Homo sapiens: one gene and its partner. Each later gene encodes a partner of the first gene's protein in a complex. Each region holds a gene or a part of one and is shown on either strand. Other genes may lie near its edges. The genes, in order: ZCCHC7 and TENT4B.

The links.
Region 2: ZCCHC7 (region 1) and TENT4B share a complex: the UniProt entries of both Homo sapiens proteins name them as parts of the nucleolar TRAMP-like complex.

Annotation. Positions count from the first base shown.
Region 1 is NC_000009.12:37,114,786-37,125,466, forward strand, and holds the start of ZCCHC7 (zinc finger CCHC domain-containing protein 7), read left to right. Parts: upstream 1-5,788; 5' UTR 5,789-5,838; exon of another isoform or gene 5,839-6,887; intron 6,888-10,681.
Region 2 is NC_000016.10:50,147,372-50,157,233, reverse strand, and holds the start of TENT4B (terminal nucleotidyltransferase 4B), read right to left. Parts: upstream 3,929-9,862; 5' UTR 3,613-3,928; coding exon 2,975-3,612; intron 1-2,974. UniProt on the Homo sapiens protein: Terminal nucleotidyltransferase that catalyzes preferentially the transfer of ATP and GTP on RNA 3' poly(A) tail creating a heterogeneous 3' poly(A) tail leading to mRNAs stabilization by protecting mRNAs from active deadenylation.

The DNA of each region.
Region 1 (10,681 bases):
CTCTGCAGAGGCTTCCCCATGTCCCCTAATCAGCCACCACCCCCTCCTCTGCTGTCCCATAACACTGTTCACACCATGCCCAGGCCTTCATTTACCAACCATTCCATACAAAATCTACTCATTCCAAAAGTGTCCACTGTGAGCCTTCTCTGTGCTTGGCCTTGGGCTAGGTGCTGGGTGGAGAGACATGAGCCAGTCATCATAGACTCCATGCTAAAGTTCAATTTTGAAATGCAGCTTTGAGCATAGAAAAGAGCATGAGTTTTAGATCTAGACATAACTTGAGTTGAATTCCAGCTTCACCACTTCCCAGCTGTGTAATTCAGAGCAAGTCACTTGATTACTCCAAGTCTCCATTTCCATACTAGTGAGGTGAGGCTAATCCCTCCCTAAGAGAGTCACTTGAAGCTGGGCAAGAGACAATAATATCTGAAATGGCTAAAAAGGGCCTGTTACACAGTAGGCTTGCAGTGGATGAATGGTAGTTGAAAGGCAACTGTTAAGAGGTCAAAATCAGTTAGTTCTCAGAGGTTCTAAGAGCCACCAATAAACTGGAAAATAAAAAGGAAGGAAGTAGCTCCTCTCTTTGCAATGCAAAGGATATGGATGAGTGCCACTTGCCCAGATCCTGCTGCAGAATATCCTTTATCTTTCCTGCTCTCTGCAGCAGATTTCTGCTTTGTCTTGGCCCCTCATCCCAATTCAGCTGTGCACTGTTGATGTCCTACTGCCACTTTCGTGGGAAGAACAGGTGCTTCCCTTCTCAAATAAATGTTGGTCTAGGCAGGGCGTGGTGGCTCACGCCCGTAATGCCAGCACTTTGGGAGGCAGAGGCGGGTGGATCACGAGGTCAGGAGATCGAGACCATCCTGGCTAACACAGTGAAACCCTGTCTCTACTAAAAATACAAAAAAATAAGCTGGGCGTTGTGGCGGGTGCCTGTAGTCCTAGCTACTCAGGAGGCTGAGGCAGGAGAATGGCGTGAACCCGGGAGGCGGAGGAGTTTGCAGTGAGCCGAGATCGCGCCACTGCTCTCCAGCCTGGGTGATAGAGTGAGACTCCATCTCAAATAAATAAATAAATAAATAAATAAATAAATAAATAAAATAAACGTTGGTCTCTTTAGAAGATACTCTGTAAGAAAGACTTCAGGATATTTGTGCATGCTGTCACCCATGATTTCAAGAAGTAGGGGCTGAGCACTGTGGTTCACACTGAGGCGGGAGGACTGCTTGAGACAGTTCAAGACCAGCCTGGTCAACATGGCGAGATCCCATCTCTACAAAATGTATATAGTTTTAAATTAGCCAGGTGCAGTGTGGTGATGCACGCCTGTAGTCCCAGCTTCTTGGGAGGCTCAGGTGGGAGGATCTCTTGAGCCCAGGAGGTTGAGGCTCCAGTGAGCTGTGTTTACACCACTGCACTCCAGCCTGAGTGACAGAGTGAGACCCTGCGTCAAAAAAAAAATAAAATAAAATAAAAAGGAGAAATGGGGAGTAGAGACAGCTTCAATTAGAAAGAGAAATGCTGTGTATGTGGAGAGAGGCTAAGGTGGAAAGTTTCCCTGAAGACCCAAAACTTCAGCAGAGTAGGGTGAGTGGGTATATGTTAGAAGGACAGGGAGAAGGGCTTTACAGGCAGTGGAGTGTTCTCTGCAAAGGCACAGGTGTGGGAGGGCATGGTGTGTTCTGGCAACTGCCCAGGATTCAGCGTCAACAGTAGGCAGATGTCAGCTCATGAAGTGCCTTTTATGCCATCCAAAGGACTCTAGGTTTGAAGACATAAACTAAAGGGGTAGGCTGAAGCATTCTGAGCATGGGAAAGCAGTAAATCTTTGTTGAATGCATGTGTGACAGTGGGAAGATGGGACATGGTAATTAGGAGTACAGTCGTGTCATTTAATGATGGGGATAAGTTTTGAGAAGTGCATTGTTAGGTGATTTTTTCATTGTGCAAACTTCATCGAGCATATTTACACAAACCTAGATGGTATAGTCAAGTAAACACCTAGGCCACATGATGTAGCCTATTGCTCCCAGATTACAAACTGCTACATGTTACTGTACTGAATACTGTAGGTGACTATAACACAATAAGTATTTGTGCATCTAAACATGGAAGAGGTACAGTAAAAATATGATAAAATAATCATCATATATGCAGTCTGGTTTTGAGTGGAATGTCATTATGAAGCACATAACTATTATTTCCTATACTTGTGGCCTTCTATAAGTTTTACTTAGCCTTTCTACGCCTCTTTTCTTTTTTTGTGTGTGTGAAATTGGAACTTAAAACATCAACTTGAAAGTATTGGTGGGGCTGAGTGTCTCATGCCTGTAATCCTAGGACTTTGGGAGGCTGAGGTGGGGGGATCACTTGAGGCCTGGAGCCCAGAAGCTGGAGACCAGCCTGGGCAATACGGGGAGACCCTATCTCTACAAAAAAGTTTTAAAAATTAAAAAAATAATTAACTCAGCATGGTGGTGTGTGCCTTTAGTCCCAGCTACTTGGGAGGTTAATGCGGGAGCATCATTTGGGAGATAGGTTTCAGTGAGCTGTGATTACACCACTGCACTCCAGCCTGGGTGACAGAGCAAGACCCTTTCTCAAAAAAAAAAAAAAAATCCACAAAGTGTTGTCGAAATTTAAAATATTATAATAGATGGACAGGAGTAATCCTGGCAATATATTTTTAAATTTTTAAAAAGGTGACATTTGTTTTACACAATACATATTACCAAAACAAACAATCTAGTCATCTGTGATGTGCTTCTATGCCTGTTTTCTTTTCTGGAAAGTGGTTCTCCAATTTTACCTTTTCATAGTACCTTGTCCTTCTCCTTCCCAGCACTTACCCCATAATGTTAATTAAATGTTCTAATTCTTTTCTGGCCAAACTCCTAGACTATAACTGTTTTCCTAGCTAGATGCCTATCTCTATGAGATCAGTGACTTAAAAATTTACAGCTTTTCTGCACTTTCTAACACCGTCTTTTAACAGATAGATGTTCAATAAACGTTGGTGAAAACAATCAAACTCACACTTGTCTTGAGGAGAATTGAAATAGGCCAATGAATTGGCAGTGTGTCATTATGAGAGGAGAAAAATAGTTCAGAGCAGTCTAAGTTACGTTAAAGGTATGCAAAAATAATTTTTTTAAAAATTAAAGATATGGGGTCTCTCATCCAGGCTGGAGTGCAGTGGTGTGATCACAGCTCACTATGACCTTGAACTCTCAGGCTCAAGCAATCTTCTCACCTTGGCCTCCTTAGTAGCTAGGAATACAGTTGTGTGCCACCACGCCTGGCTAATTTTTACTATTTAAAATTTCTTATTTATTTTTATTTTTATAAAAAGATTTGTTTTTTTAAATTTATTTTTATATAATTTTTTAATTAAGAAAAGGATCTTATTTTAAATATAGATGGGGTCTTCTTATGTTGCCCAGGCTGGTCTCCAACTCCTGAGCTCAAGCGATCCACCTGCCTCAACCTCCCAAAGTGCTGGGATTACAGCCATGAGGCACCTTGCTTGAGCTTTAAACATTTTTGTTCAGACGGTCTCATTCTGGAGTGCAATGGTGCGATCTCGGCTCACTGCAGCCTAGACCTCCGCAGTTCAAACCTCAGCCAGGAACAGCTGGGACTCCAGGTGTGGGCCACCACGCCCTGTTATTATTATTATTTTTTTGACACGGAGTTTCTCTCTTGCTGCCCAGGGTGGAGTGCAATGGCGCAATCTCGGCTCACTGCAACCTCCGCCTGCCGGGTTAAAGCGATTCTCCTGCCTTAACCTCAGGAGTGGCTAGGATTACAGGCATGCGCCATCACGCCCGGCTAATTTTGTATTTTTACTAGAGACGGGGTTTCGCCATGTTGGTCAGGCTGGTCTCCAACTCCTGACCTCAGGTGATCCGCCCGCCTCGGCCTCCCAAAGTGCTGGGATTACAGGCGTGAGCCACTGCGCCCAGTCGCCCAGTTAATTTTTAAATTTTTAAATTTTTTTGTAGAGACAGCGTCTTGCTATATTACCCCGGCTGGTTTCGAATTCTCGGCCTTAAGCTATCCTCCCACTTCGGGCTCCCAAACAGGTGAGAGCTACCCCATTAGCCAGGCAGGCATTCAAACTTTATCAGGCCCAGAGGGACTTGAGTATGGTACTTCAGTTAGCACCATCCCATGTAGGTGGTGGTGGGGGTGGGGGTGGGGGGTAGGGGTGTGTGGCAATTGTTTAAAGGCATTTTGTTCTTTTCTTCCCAGTACCTGCATCACCCTTTATCTTCGTGTTCCTAAAATTTGTGATAGAAAGAACAATGTGTAGCCAATGGATAGCTTATGTTATTTTAGTGTCAATTCTTGGTATGTAGTTTAGCAAAAGCCTCTTCTTTTTTCCTTTAAAAATTCACTCGTGGCCGGGCGCGGTGGCTCACGCCTCTAATCCCAGCACTTTGGCAGGTCGAGGCCAGGAGTTCGAGACCAGCCTGGCCAACATGGTGAAACCCCGACTCTACTAAAAATACAAAAATTAGCTGGGCGTGGTGGCAGGCGCCTGTAATCCCAGCTACTTCGGAGGCTGAGGCAGGAGGATGGCTTGAATCTGGGAGGCGGAGGTTGCAGTGAGCCGAGACCGCGCCATTGCACTCCAGCCTGGGCAACAACTGCGAAACTCCGTCTCAGGAAAAAAAAAAAAAAAAAAAAAAAAAAAACCATAAAGAAAGAAAAAAATTCACTCGTAGCTGCTACAAGAAGTGTAATGGCTCATGCCTGTGATCCCAGTGCTTTGGGAGACAGAGGTGGGAGGATCGATACCTTTAAGCCTGGAGCTTCACAAGACAAAGAACTCAGTTGAAACTGCTGCTTATCGGATCACATATTAAGGGCAACTTGAATTGATGATCCCAGGTTGCCCTCATCAAACTTGGCCCAAATAAATTCTCCACTTATATTAACTTTGCCTCAGTTTTTCCTTTAGGTCGACAGTTATTTCTAAAGTTCTACAGATGGGTTTACCTTGTATTAAAATAAGGTGTGAGAAGGGCAAATGAAGCCAGAGGCTCCCAGCACAATCTTGCAACCTTCAGAGACTTCCAAAGGATCAGCATTAACTCCAATATTTAGCAGGAGTGCAGCTCTTCGAGATTCACAAAGTGTTAATCTGTTGCCTAGAATTCCAGAGAGTTGGAGGCGCCCAGTGTGAACTGTGTTCCGCCTAAAAGAAAAAGCGACCAGCCTAAGATCATGAGCGCAAGGGAGAAGCTTGAAGCCATGCGCTCTCAAGTACGCGTTTCCCGCTGCCCAGGTCTGCGGGCCAAGCAGCCAGCCACGCTGGCCCTCGTCATGCACGCGATCAGCTAGGCTCCCGCGCCACGTGGCACTGAGAAGGCGTCCACCGAGCGCCAGGGAGAAGGAGGCGGAGCCCGGCCTCAACCTCGCCCGTGTCCTCATGGGGGTTGTAGTTTTCCTCGCGGGGGTAGAGGGCACGAACTCCCCGGCTTTTGCCCGGTAAATAGCATCTCCTTCGTACGAGTCATTCAAATAATAGATGCAGCCTAGGTAGCTTCAAGAGAAGTTGGGAAGGGGAAGGGGGAAAGCAAGGAAGGCAAACCTAATAATTATGGGCGGGGCAGAGAACGGTTCGCACCCACTACGCATGCGCACATCAGGCGCGGCAGGTGGGCGGGGACGGAAAGGCGGTGACTAGAGCTGTGTTGTCCCCGGAAGTGCCTTCCCTCCCGGGTCTGCGCGGACGCGGCCTCCTTACCTCATTTGTCCTCGCCCCTCCCCGTCCCTCTACGCGTTTTGGTTCCCGGTTGGTGCTTCCTGTTCGCAGCTGCGGCAGTGAGTATGTGTGTGACGGACCCCCGCCGCCCGCGGCTCGGGACCCCTGCCTACCCTCCTTCTTGCCCGCCGGGCTGTGGAACTAGCGCGTGCCCCCTCGCCGGCCTCGACGTCTCCCGTCCGCCCCTCACTCGTGGCAGGGCGCAGCTCCTGGTCCGTCACCTGCGCGCCGCCCCACGCGGCCGGGCTGCGGGTCTAGGGGGTCCGCGTCTCCCTGGCTTTCCAAGGGCTAATGCCGTGATTCTAGAGCGGCTGGGCGTCTAGGGCCTCGGTGAGGGTGGCGTGTCTGCCCTTTTTATTTCCCCGCAAGGCCCCCAGTCTTCTAGGGAAGCCAGTCAGTGAAGCGCGGAGGTCCCGGCGCGCCGAGAGAGAGTCCAGTCTTTGAGGACCGAGTAGTCCTGGGCCACCTCCCGCCTCTGCTGTCAGAAGCAGCAGCTGCAGCAGTAGAATCCAAAATTTCGGGAGCTGTGACCCTTTCCTCATGTAAAACGAGTAGACTTGGACTGTGTTTACTAAGGCGCCCTTTATCCCTCCCATCCTGTGAGCGGACAGTTGCCTTCAACTTTTGGGAAGAGCTGCTGGTTCGGTGGAAAAGCTGTGGCTGGGAATCAGGAGGCCTGGGTTCTAGCCGTGGCTCCCCCACGGATTCGCTGGCGATTCCAGAAAGCTCTTATTGAAGCTGAATTTAAGATTATTTCAGATTGCACAGTTGAATTACGGGCTGCATTAGTAGGGCCTTTTTAGCTCAGTGAATAAGTTTCTCTGAGCTCCTTTCTCCAACTATAAAACGAGAGCGTTCAATTTGATGACTTTTCAGGTCCCCTCAGAAGCTCTTGACTTTGTGGTTTTCTTTTTCTTTTTAAAATTTTTTCTAGGACCGTTAGAGAAATGACTTCGTGTTTGAATAGTTAGGCTGTCGCATACAAAGACTTTTAAATGGATTGTGTGTATACTTAGGAAAGCGTTATGCTTTCAGGAGAATCTGAGCATGGGGAATAAAGTCAGGAAGGATCGCAAGTGAGGATTATATTAATATGATAATTAGCACGGTAAGAGACTGCATGACCGAAGGAAAAGGGCTAAGGGAAAGGTGAAGGAAATGTTTCCGGATAGGATTAGTTCTCGTAAAAATCATATATATATCCCAAGAAGAGCTGGGACTTAAGTGACTAAATTTAGCTTATTTTTTTTCCCCCACTGAAATACTGTGCTCTGTTTGTCTTTTGTGACTTTTGTTTTACACATTTGGATTCTCCATCCCAATCAGATTTGATTCAGAGTGGCCATCGCATTTGAAAAATGGACAGACATTTTAACCCTTTAGACAATTGTGTTTCAACTGTCCTGTCAGGGCAGCTTACTAAGAGTAAGAAAAATTTTACTTTGAAAGTAAAGTGTATTCATCACATTCCAATGAAAATTGGACTGAAAATGAGGCTGTGGATTTGATTTAAATCGGCCGGAGATGGATGCGTGTGTCATCAAGAAGGAACATCTAGGGAGGCTAAAGATATTTGGAAGTAAATAAGAGCAAAAGGTCAGAATGACCAGTAGGTAGACTGTGAGAGCAGAAGGATTGATTAAAGACTGTGTTAAGTAAATGCTGAAAGCTTAAATAAGCCTTAAGTTGTCTAGTTTAAAACAATTCAGTCAATGAATACTGCTCCCTCTTTTGAATGGTAATAGCCTTTGCAGTTATTCTATAGCTGTTTTATATTTGTTAAGGTATTTTAATTCTTAGATAAGTTTCATTTGCATGATATTTTAAGATGTTATATAGGAAACATCTTTTCTGGTCATGGGATTGATAGTTTTTGAGTACCAACTTGGGAGATTCTTAAATGGCAAACTGACAAACGTGTGTTTTCCTTACACCTAAAATGTCTCATTTAGTTTTTAAACTCTGCTGGGACATAAAATGGATATTTGTGAGGTAAATTTAGGTGTTAGAACCAATGCAAATATTGCAATGAAGGAAGGTTTTTCTTCAAAAAATCTTAATTTGAAGTTAACTTATTTGAAAATTTTATTTTGGGCCATGTGCGGTGGCTCACGCCTGTAATCCAGGCACTTTGGGAGTCCGAGTGGGGCGGATCACGAGGTCAGGAGTTCGAGACCAGCCTGGCCAACATGGTGAAACCCGTCTCTGCTAAGAATACAAAAATTACCCAGGCGTGGTGGCGCGTGCCTGTAATCCCAGCTACTTGGGAGGCGGAGGCAGGAGAATTTCTTGAACCCAGGAGGAGGAGGTTGCAGTGAGCCGAGATTGCGCCACTGCACTCTCACCTGGGGGACAGAACGAGACTCCGTCTCAAGGGGGAAAAAAAGAAATTTGTTTAAAAATTTTAGTAAACAGTTGGCTGAGAATCACAGAAATGTGAATCACTTCTAGCCGTGTTCTTAACCAGCTGCATAACCTTGAATAGGCTTCCTATCTCTTTGTATTTCAGTTTCCTGATGGGAAGATTGAGGAGTCTGTATGAGATAATCTGATTTTGTTACCTAGTTAGTATACTTGGGAATCATGTACAGGGATAAAAAAGCTGAGAAAGCCTTCTGAGTCAAGGGTGTGTGTGTGTGTGTGTGTGTGTGTGTGTGTGTGCGTGTGCGTGTGTGTGTAAAAAACATATATTGTCTTCCAAGACACTTTTTAAAAGGGTAAATTAAATTCATTTGAACGTAATTAAAGCAGTAACATTAACGAAAACAACCTTAGGCAGACCTTAACCCTGGCATACATAAACTACCTAAATAAGAGAGCACGTTATGCCCAGCACAATTTTCAAGTACAGACGGTACAAAATCCTCTTAAAGGCCATAGGGGCTAAATTGTTAAATTCATTTTTCTACATTTCAGGGAAAGAGATAAATCCTTTGACCCAAGGAAGTCAGTTTTTATTATGGTTCTGTAGTTTATTTTTGGCATACATTCACAGGTGTGCCTATGGCTCTATTCTTAATCCCTTTCCTTTGGGATGGCTGCAAGAGTAGTACAAACTTGTAACTTTGTAATTTGGCTTTTTAATTTTTTCTGTGCTGCACTGGAATTATGTTTTGTCTTAAGTCCACACTGGATCCTCAGGATGGATCCAGTGAGGATTTTGAAAGAAGCATAATTCCTTTGACTTCTTTTAGAATTAATTTACCTATTAAATAAAAAGGAAAGGATTCATCTTTTATTCGAATTCCTCTGAGGCTAACAATTCAATATAAACTGATGAATGCTGTGAGCATTATTCAGACAATCACATTCAATTTGTGTGACAGTAACAGCATAGCCACCTGAAGGACAGTGCAACAAGGGCACAGGTATATGATACCCTTTAGAAGAAAAGCATTACAGGTGGGTTTATTTGTTTCTGGAAAACAAACAACTCCAGTAGGAATGTAGTACATTTTTGGCTCTTGTCCATTTGGTTTTTGGGATTAAGGTGGTTCTATTACCAGAACTACCACCACAACACCCTGGTATTTTTGGGCAGAAATTTGGGACACTAAGAAAACAACTATTTTTTATTTTATGTGTATAGCTGTTAGTGGAAGAAAGAATAAATAGGCATCATTATTGCTCTTTAGGCTGTCCCTGATTTTGGACACACACTTATTTTTTCAGGGCTCTCATTTTAATCAGTAGTCCATCAGTACCTAATGGAAACATCTACTGTGTAGAGTTTTGGTTGCTGATGCTAGAATTTAAGACTTTGGAGTAGTCGAAAGACAACAGAGAAATTCATCTCATAATTTTTGTATTTTAAGCACATACTAGATTTATCAGGGCTGAAGAACAAATGCCCGATGGTGTAGTTCATTTATTCATTTATGAATTCAGCAAACGTTTGTAGCTGACCCCGAAAATACCAGTTACCCTGTTTGGCTTTGGTGATTCATTGTTTAGCAGAGTGCATATAGTTCCTGCCCTCCTGGGATTTGTGATCTGCGTTTCTTGGAAATTTATATTGAATAAGTAATTATAAATGTGATGAGTGTTTTGACATGTAAAGTACTTATGGAAGCCCATAAAAGGGGCTCTTAATTTAGCCTGGTTGCAAGTGATTTTGAGCTGAGTTTAAAAGATGAAGGCTGAGGAGGATTTAATATGCTCACAGTAGAAAGTAAAGTGTTTCACTTTACACATTTATTCCCAAAGCTGGGAGTTTTGTCTCAATATTGGGTCATTATTAAGTTTGTATTTATACATTATAAATATACATTGTAAAAATATACATTTTTGTAACTAGTACAGAGTTTTTAGACAGTCTGCTCTGTTGCCCAGGGTGAAGTGCAGTGGCATGATCTCGACTCACTGCAGCCTGTGCCTCCCAGGTTCAAGCTATTCTTGTGCCTCCACCTCCTGAGTAGCTGGGATTATAGGCGCACACCACCACACCCAGCTGATTTCTTTATTTTTAGCAGATATGTAGTTTCACCATCTTGGCTAGGCTGGTCTCGAACTCCTGACTCAAGTGATCCACCCGCCTTGGCCTCCCAAAGTCCTGGGATTACAGGCGTGAGCCACTGCACTGGCCCACCCTTGTTTTATTTTTGAGTTGGGTTCTTGCTTTGTCACCCAGGCTGGAGTACAATGGTATGAGCATAGCTCACTGTAACTTTGAACTCCTGAGCTCAAGCGGTTCTCCCACCTCAACCTCCTGAGTAGTAGCTGGGACTACAGGTTTGCACTGCCATGCCTGGCTAAGTTTTTAGTTTTAATTTTTATGGAGATGGGGTCTTACTGTGTTGCCCAGGCTGTTCTCAAACTTCTAACCTCAACGTGATCCTCCTGCCTTGGCCTCCCAAAGTGTTGGGATTACAGGCATGAGCCACTGCCAGCTCAGGCATTTTT
Region 2 (9,862 bases), on another chromosome or scaffold:
CTATATAGCTGTCCCATGGTTCTAGTCCATTTTCACATGCTTTCTGGTCTCCTCTCCCCATCTGGACTATCAGTTCAGAGGCCAAGAACCACCACAATGTGTTAACCTATTAGCTAACTATCAGTCACATCTTAAGAATTCAGAAAACAATGGTAACAGTTTTAGTATATTTAATCTCAGAACAGCATAACATCGAGGTGCACTCTGAATTCAGATTTTTTTAAATACCTATATTAAAAATAGAAAAACTTTCTAAAGTTAAGAAATAAGGATACTGGCGAGAATGGTGGCTCATGCCTATAATCCCAGCACTCTGTGAGGCCAAGGTGGGAGGACTGCTTGAGGCCGGTTGAAGACCAGCCTAGGCAACAAATGGAGGCCCCATCTCTACAAAAAGTAAAAATAAAAAAATTAGGCAGGTGTGGTGACATGTGCCTGTAGTCCCAGCTACTCCAGGAAGCTAAGGCAGGAGGATCACTTGAGCCCAAGAGTTAGAGGATACAGTGAGCTATGATCACGTCACTCCACTCCAGCCTAGGCAGCAGAGTGAGACCCAGTCTCAAAAGAAAAAAAAGAAATCAGGATAATGAGGCCGGGCACGGTGGCTCATGCCTGTAATCCCAGTCCTTTGGGAGGCCAAGACGGGCAGATCACCTGAGGTCAGGAGTTCGAGACCAGCCTGACCAACATGAAGAAACCCCGTCTCTACTAAAAATAAAAAATTAGCCAGGCGTGGTGGCAAGCGCCTGTAATCCCAGCTACTCGGGAGGCTGAGGCAGCAGAATCGCTTGAACCTGGGAGGCAGAGGTTGCGGTGAGCTGAGATCGAGCCACTGCACTCCAGCCTGGGCAACAAGAGCGAAACTCCGTCTCAAAAAAAAAAAAAAAATCAGAATACATGAATCAAAGCAAGAATTTCTAAGCACCCAGACACTCTTAACACTCTTGGGAATTGTTTAATGTATTTTTTGAAACTAGGAGGTCTCAGAATTGAACTTTTTTTAATTTAAAAAAAAAATTAACTGCTGACATCCTCTAAGGGAGGAGGCAAAAGAATGGAAAATCTGGTGAAGTGATAAGCAGTTTTTAAAGAGGTTTACAACCAGTTTTTAAACAGTAATCCCTCCGGGAAATGAAAATTCCTCTCCTAATCCCTTTGAGGGCAATATATTTGAATCAGGAACAAGAACATCTTGCTTCTAAGTATAAATATGAACCTTTTAGAGTATCTTCTGCATTAAATAGCAAGTAGAGGAGAGGACAATTTCTAATTTATCAAAAAAAAAATAAGCATCTTGGACTTATATCTTTTGCTAGACACATGCAAAGAGGCTTCAGTAAAATGCAATTAAGGAACTTCAAGGTTTTCGTTGACAGTGATTACCTAACTGGAGCTTACTCCTGTGAAATGAAACTACCAGAAACCCTCAACATCAATTTGCTTGTCACTAAACCACAGGTTTACGCGTAGACTTGGAAATGCTAACAGGATGGAACCACAAGCCTTTAATAAAACGTGATGACCATGGAGAGCACCCTTGAAGCTTAGCAACAGAGGACTCAACCCTAAAAGGGTTCCCTTTCTGGAATGTGAGGGCAGGTTTGACATGTACCACAGCACCAGTCCTAGAACGCTTGACTGCATTTTCCACAAAAGGTAGGAGTTGTAATAGTAGCATAGAGCAGACACCAGCCCACTGGAAGCAGATGGAACCCACCAACTCATTTTATCCAGACCTTCAAAAAGGTACACAGAACTCTCTCTCTCAGCCAAAGCAGGGCAGATCTGAATGAATAAATCCAGGAAAAGGTTCACATGGGATTACTAATTGGTAATTTCATTTGCATGCTAAAGCCCTCAATGTAAAACACAACCTGAAAAATGAAAAGCAATTTGAAAGCCGGTTCTCCATACTCAAGCTACACACACACACACACACACACACACACACACACACACACCCACGAGACCCAAAAGCTTTGTTTTACAAAACAAATAAGATTCAGTGACCTATTCCAGCACAGGGACTCTTCTGAAGGGAGATCTAGTTGGAAACATTCCCTGCTTATGTACATAATTCACTAGGGGTCAGGTAAGATTCCATTTTCTAAGAGCTGAACTTTAAACAGAAAGTCACTAGTGGTGCAATATTCACTCATTAGCATAAATCTCTACCCCCTAGAATGAAAAGCATTGGCTGCCTCTGCCAGGATGACAACTTTACAGTGAGAAGCTGGAGCCGCGGACCATGAACTCCTGGAAAGTTCTATCAGGGCCTCAGAAGGGCTCACCACCTTCACCAGCCTAAACTTAGTGGTCACCCATCCCACGCCACCCTCTGCATAGACAGGGCATCTGTGACATGGGAATTTTTTAAAAATAAAAAGATGGGCCAAAGGGTCAAGAGCAGGCAATGCCTTACAGGGCTGACATAATTGCTGTCTGGGATTGGGGGATGGGGAGGAGCATTCTGGATGTTTCTATTCTTGGCAAGGAAAGCACCTCCGGGTCCTGCACCATCAAAAAACACTCACACACCAATGTTCTCAGGGAATGAATGATAGGCCCGTGCTAAGCGGTCTCATCTTGAGTTGTGATGATGGGGAAAAAGGTGTGGAGGGCTGGAGGCGGGGTGGTGGTCAAGGGTAGATGTGTTTAACTAAGGGGGATGGGAGGAGAGTGAATGGATAAAGGGGGGGGCCTGGGGAAGGTGTGGACGGTTAAGAGGGAGGGGAGGAAGGTGTGGACGACTAAGGGAGGACAGGAGACGGAGGGTGTGGACGGCTAAGGAGGCTTGGGGAAAGGTGTGAACGACTGGGGGGTTGGGGATGGCCAGCAGCACCCCCGTGCAACAGCAGCGAAGGCAGGCCGTGGGGGTGGCCGCTCCTAGACCCTCACAACCCCCCTCTGTGGGCGTGTGCCCGGCTGCGCATTCGCACCGGCCAGGCCATCGGGCCGCAGAGCCAGCACTCACCCCACGACTCCCTGGTTGTAGTTCCTCCGTTTCCACGGGGTCCCGCTGTACACGACCCCGCCGCCGTCTGCTCGGCCGCCCCCCGCGGCCCGCCCTCCGCTGGGCTGCAGCAGGCTGTAGTTGAGTCCATACGTGCTGGCCTTGTTGTCGCGCTTCCTCTTGTTGCTGCTGCCCGAGGCCGAATCGGCTGGATCGGCGGCGGGGACGGCGGCCGAAGGGTGCGGGGACGAGGACGCCGAGGGAGGCGAGGACGCCGAGGAGCCCGCCCGGCGGGCCCAGGCCCCGGGCTGGTGGTGGTTGTTGTTGTTGTTGGTCGTCTCTAGGGGCAGGAAGTCCCGCTGCTCCGCGGGCAGCGCGTGGCTGCCCAGCAGGCGCTCCCCGGAGCGATACATGCCGGCCGGGGCCGGGGCCGGGGCCGAGGCCGCGCCGCCGGGGCTGCCGGTGCTGCTGCCGCTCCCGCCGGTGGCCGTGCTGCTGCTGCTGCTGCTGCCGCCGCCGCCGCTCGCGCCGCCGCTGCTGTGACAGTGGTGGTTGAAGTAGAGGTTCCTCAGCCCCTGGGTCGTCTCCCAGATCTGCATCCACAGACTGTTGGACGGTCCGAGCTGCTCTGGCTGAAACCAGGCGATCCTCGGATCCATCAAACGGCGGCGGCCGCTGCCCCCGCCCCTCCCGGCCGCCCGCAGGGCCGCCGCCGCCGCCGCCTCAGGCGCACGCCCGGCCTCGGCTGCTGCTGCTGCTGCCGCTGCTGCCGCTGCTGCTGCTGCTGCTGCTCGGGGCCCGCCGCGGGCGGCGCGGTCGCGCAGGGAGCCCGGCCGGCGCCGGCGGCGTCGCTCCCGCCCTCGGGGGCTCCGCGGGCCCTCCCCCCCTCCCTCCGCCCCTCCGCCCCTCCGCCGAGCCCCTGTCACTGGGGTCCCCGTGCAAATGGCGGCGGCGGCGGCGGCGGCTCCACAGAAGAGCGAGCGGCGGCGGCGGCAGCGGCGGCAGCGAGACGCGCCTGCTCCGTAGCGTCCTCGCTCCTCCGGCCCCGGGGCGGGGCCTCTGCCGGCTCCGCCCCTCTCGCTCCGCCCCCCCCCCCCACCGCCCCGCCCTCACGCGCTCGCCCCGCCCCCGCTGCGCCGCGCAGCAGCCCGGGAGGCCTCGCCGTGCGTCACAGAGGCCGCGGCGCGACGGGGCCGCAACCGCCTGGCCCAACCGTACTTGCGCCATCTGTGGAGTGCTCCCACGTACCTGGGCGTCCGGGAGCTTCTGAGGCGCGCGCGGCTTCTCCGCCTCGGCTTCCCCGGTGCTGAGCGTGGACGAGGCCGCATGGAGGTTGCCGCCCGCCCCGCAGGGAGCGCGTTGTGGGAGGTGCCACTCCGCCCCTCGCTCCTCGCCCCTCCCATCCCTGTGGCCGCCGGATCCCGGGCCCTCGCAACCCTTCCTGACGTCTTGGCTTCTGCCTGCTTTCTAAAACACTTTCTTTTTAAAAAAAAAAAAAAAAAAAAAAACAGCCTATAACACTTTTTCTGGTGGCGTGGGGACACGCCCCCTGCCCGAGCGTGTGCCCCGGGGTCCTGACGCGGGCTGCGCGAGACCCTGCACGGCTACGTGTGCCCCGCCCTGCTGCGCCCTGGCCGGGGTGGGGGACCCCTCACCCCGGCCTGAGGCCACAGAAACCTGTACCCCATGCATAGCCCTGGGGGAGACCACTAAGACTGAGAGTGTGAGCCAAGGGCGGAAAGCCGCAGCCGCACACTCAACCCACTTTACAGGGACACGCAAACACGTGTAGATGCACAGAGAAGCAGACACACTCCTGCGCGGCGTAGCAAAGACGCTCTCCTGCCCTAAGGTGCACCAACAGCCTTAGAAAGCTCTTCTGAGTTCAGCATTAAATTTTAAGAAAACCCAAAACCTTTTAATCCTAAAATGAAGATTTAGCATCAGCAAAGATTGTCCACTAGGTCGTTATTTGCATGTCTTTCAAATCTCAGTGGTTAAAAAGCCAAGGAAAGGGGAATGTTAAGTATTTTAAATCAAGAGACTAAAAGAAAGTAAGTGAACAGCTTCTATGTGGGCCCTTTAAGGTTGGTCCAACGTCCAGAACAAGTCCCTGATGCCTGATATTGGCCTTCCATTTTGGGAGCTCAATATCCTGGAAAGTTTTTATGACAAATAGTGGAAAACTATCAAAGAACTAAGTGTCGCTCTACCTTTTTCTTTCTTTCGAGACTAACTCTTGCTCTGTCATCTGGAGTTCAGTGACTCATTCACAGCTCACTGCAGGCTCGGCCTCTTGGGTTCAAGCGATCCTCTTGCCCCAGCCTCCGAGTAGCTAGGACTATAGGCACGCGTCAACATGGCATAGAGACGAAGTTGCTCTGCGCTGCCCAGGCTGGTCTGGAACTCCTGGACTTAAGCGATCCTCCTACCTCAGACTCCAAAACTGCTGGGATTACAAGGGGGTGAGCCACCACGCCTGACCTTACTTTTTTTTTTTTTTTTGGTAAGAGAATAAATAGCACGACCAGAAATACGGAAAACACACAAAGACCCTTCAGCTGCAAACAACAGCTTCCTTGGTAGTTTATGCAGCCTGTTTCTTGTATGGGCTGCTCTAAGGGACCATGGAGACAGGCCTTTCAGATGTATGTTCATGTCTTTGACCTTGCACTACGCCAATGTAGGCTCCAGGCAGATATTCGAGGTGCCTTTGAAAAGCTCCAGGGCACTGTGGCCAGGGTTCACATTGGCCAAGTTATCATGTCCATCTGCAACAAGCTGCAGAATAAGGAGCATGTGATTGAATCCCTGCTCAGGGCCAAGTTCAAGTTCCCTGGCTGCCAGAAGATCCACATTTCAAAGAAGTGGGGCTTCACCAAGTTCACTGCGGATGAATTTGAAGACATGGTGGCTGAAAAGCGGCTCATCGCAGATGACTGTGGGGTCAAGTACATCCCCATCATGGCCCTCTGGACAAGTGGCGTGCCCTGCCCTCGTGAGGGCTTCCACTGTGCTGCCCCCTCTTAATACTCCCCAGTAAATCCTACTTCCTGTCCACCAAAAACAAACAAAAAAAACCCTTCGGAATTTTGATTCATTCAATTTGATTGTTGCTGTTGCTTTACTAGAAATCAGTATTAAAAGTTTTCTCTGTCCGGGGGCGGTTGCTCACACTTGTAATCCCAGCGTTTTGGGAAGTCAAGGCAGGCAGATCACCTGAGGTCGGGAGTTCGAGACCAGCCTGACCAACACGGAAAAACCCCATCTCTACTAAAAATACAAAATTAGCCGGGTGTGGTGGCGCATGCCTGTAATCCCAGCTACTTAGGAGGTTGAGGCAGGAGAATCACATGAACCCAGGAGGTGGAGGTTGTGGTGAGCCGAGATCTCGCCATTGCACTCCAGCCTGGGTGACAGAGCGAGACTCCATCTCAAAAAAAAAAAAAAAAAAAAGTTTTCCCTGAATGAAATTTGCTATGTACTAATTATTACATAGCCAGGAAAATAAGTAGCCGTATTTTTTGTGTTATTTACACTGACAAAAATAAAACATTGTATAGAAATAGATTTTGTTTGCTGACCTCATATTTGTTTTAAAAATTGAATCTCTGGCCGGGCGTGGTGACTCACACCTGTAATCCCAACATTTTGGGAGGCTGACGCGGGCAGATCATGAGCTCAGGAGTTCCCGAGACCAGCCTGGCCAATGTGGTGAAACCCCGTCTCTACTAAAAATACAAAAAATTAGCCGGGTGTGGTGGCACATGCCTGTAATCCCAGCTACTTGGAAGGCTGAGGCAGGAGAATCATTTGAACCTTGGAGGCAGAGGTTTTGGTGCGCCGAGATCGCGTCATTGCACTCCAGCCTAGGTGACACAGTGAGACTCTGTCTCAAAAAAAAAAAATTATATATATATATATCTATCTCTCTCTCTCTCTCAGCAGGATGCAGTGGCTCATGCCTGTAATCCCAGCACTTTGGAAGACTGAGGTGAGAGGATTACTTGAAGCCAGGAGTTTGAGAACAGCCTAGGCAACATGGTGAGACCTCTGTCTCTACAAAAAATTTAAAAATGAGCTGGGCCTTTTCCTTTAACGTAGGATCAAGGTAATAAAAAAGAAAAAAATATTCAACATGAAATTTGGAGGAGACAGATATCCAAACTATTATCAGATGCTAATTCATCAGTTACACCATAGTAATATCCTAAGTATGTTAAGTAAAAGGCTTTCTTCAGCAAAGTATCAGAGATACATTTGATTTACATACTTTTGTAAACTCTGTCTTCTCAGGATGCTGGGTACTTAAGATCCATGCTTTCAGGCCAAGTGTGGTGGCTCACGCCTGTAATCCCAGCAATTCGGGAGGCTGAGGCAGGCAGATCGCTTGAGGTCAGTAGTTTGAGACCAGCCTGGCCAACATGGTGAAACTCCATCTCTACTTAAAAAAAGAAATTAGCCGGGCATGGTGGCCCACATCTCTAAGGCCAGTTACTCAGGAGGCTGAGGTGGGAGAATCACTTGAACTTGGGAGGCAGAGGTTACAGTGAGCCGAGATCGTGCCACTGCACTCCAGCCTGGGCGACAGAGCTAGACTCCGTCTCAATAAATAAATAAATAAATAAATAAAATTAGCTGTGCTTGGTGGCGAGTGCCTGTGGTCCCAACTACTCGGGAGGCTGAGGTGGGAGTATGGCTTGAGCACAGGAGGTCGAGGCTACAGTGAGCCATGTTTGTGACACTGCACTCCAGCCTGAGTGAGATCCTGTCTTAAAAATAAAAATAAAAATGACCAGGCGCAGTGGCTCATGCCTGTAATCCCAGTACTTTGGGAGGCTGAGGCAGGAAGATCACTTGAGCCCAGAAGTTCAAGACCAGCCTGGGCAACACAGCGAGATTTTTGTCTCAAAAGAGAAGAAAAGGAAATAAAACTAAAAAATTTAAATATATTTTCTTAAACCCTGCTTGAAAAAAAAAAATTCAGGAGAGGCATGGTGGATTACACCTATAATCCCAGTGCTTTGGGAGGTTTAGGCCGGAAGGTGGCTTGAGGCTTGGAGTTTGAGACCAGTCTGGGCAATATAGCAAGACCCTGCCTGTAAAAATAATAATAATAATAGTAATAATAATAAAATTTTTAAATTCAATCTCAAGACATAAGGTCAGGAAAACATTTTTCTTTTTAATTCAAATAAGAACAATGGAAAGCCCAAAACACTAAACATTATTGGCTGGGCGCGGTGGCTCACACCTGTAATCCCAGCACTTTGGGAGGCTGAGGTAGGAGGATCACTTGAGGTCAGGAGTTTGAGACCAGCCTGACCAACATGGTGAAACCCCATCTCTACTAAAAATACAAAAAATGTAGCCGGGGTGGTGGCGCACACAAGTAGTCCCAGCTACTCTGGAGGCTGAGGTGGAAGGATCACTTGAACCCGGGAGGCAGAGGTTGCAGTCAGCTGAGATTGCACCACTATACTCCAGCCTGGGTGACACAGCGAGACTCCATCAAAAAAAAAAAAAAACAGATGTTATCAAGGTCCCACCAACAGAAATGCCCACTGTGAAAATTGTTAAACATTCATCCAAAAATCTCTCCATGCATATGTACATGTTGAAATACAGGTATATATTCCAGTCTCTTAAAATATTTCTTTAGGACCAGGCACGGTGGCTCACACCTGTAATCCCAGCACTTTGGAAGGCAGAGGCAGATGGATCACTTGAGGTCAGGAGTTTGAAAGCAGCCTGGACAACATGGTGAAACCCCATCTCTACTAAAAACACAAAAATTAGCTGGGCCTCATAGGCGCACACCTGTAATCCCAGCTACTTGGGAGGCTGAGGCAGGAGAATCACTTGAACCTAGGAGGCAGAGGTTGCAGTGAGCCGACATTGCACCACTGTACTGTAGCCTGGGTGACAGAATGAAACCCTGTCTCAAAAAAATAAATAAAATAAAATATTTATTCAGACATTCTAGAACACATTAAATGCCATTGATATCTAAGTTTTTTCAAGGTACTCAAAATTAGTAATAGCATGTGCAAGAAATTAACATTTGTTATATTTGAGTGCTGATTTCCTCAGGCAAAGGTTAAGAACTACTAAAGTATTGGCAAAATGCTAAAAATTAGTTAACATACATAAAAATACATTGTAGGCCGGGTGCAGTGGCTCAAGCCTATAATCCCAGCACTTCTGGAGGCCAAAGTGGGCAGATTGCTTCAGCTCAGGAGTTTGAGACCAGCTTGGGCAACATGACAAGACCCCACCTCTATAGAAAAAAATATAAAAATCACTTTGTGGTGCCGGGCACGGTGGCTCATGCCTGTAATCCCAGCATTTTGGGAGGCCGAGATGGGTGGATCATCTGAGGTTGGGAGTTGGAGACCAGCCTGACCAACATGGAGAAACCCCGTCTCTACTAAAAATACAAAATTAGCTGGGCATGGTGGTGCATGCCTGTAATCCCAGCTACTCAGGGGGCTGAGGCAGGAGAATTGCTTGAACTTGGTAGGCGGAGGTTGCAGTGAGCCGAGATCGTGCCATTGCACTCCAGCCTGGGCAACAAGAGGGAAACTCTGTCTGAAAACAAACAAAGAGACAAACAAACAAAAAACCTTTATGACCAGGCGCAGTGGTTCATGCCTGTAATCCCAGCACTTTGGGAGGCCGAGGTGAGCAGATCACTTGAGGTCAGGAGTTCAAGACCAGCCTGGTGAACATGGTGAAACCCCATCTCTACCAAAAGTACAAAAAACTAGCCAGGCGTAGTGGCGTGTGTCTGTAATCCCAGCTACTTGGGAGGCTGAGGCAGGAGAATCACCTGAACCCAGGAGGGGGAAGTTGCAGTGAGCCAAGATCATGCCACTCCACTCCAGCCTGGGCAACAAAGGGAGACTC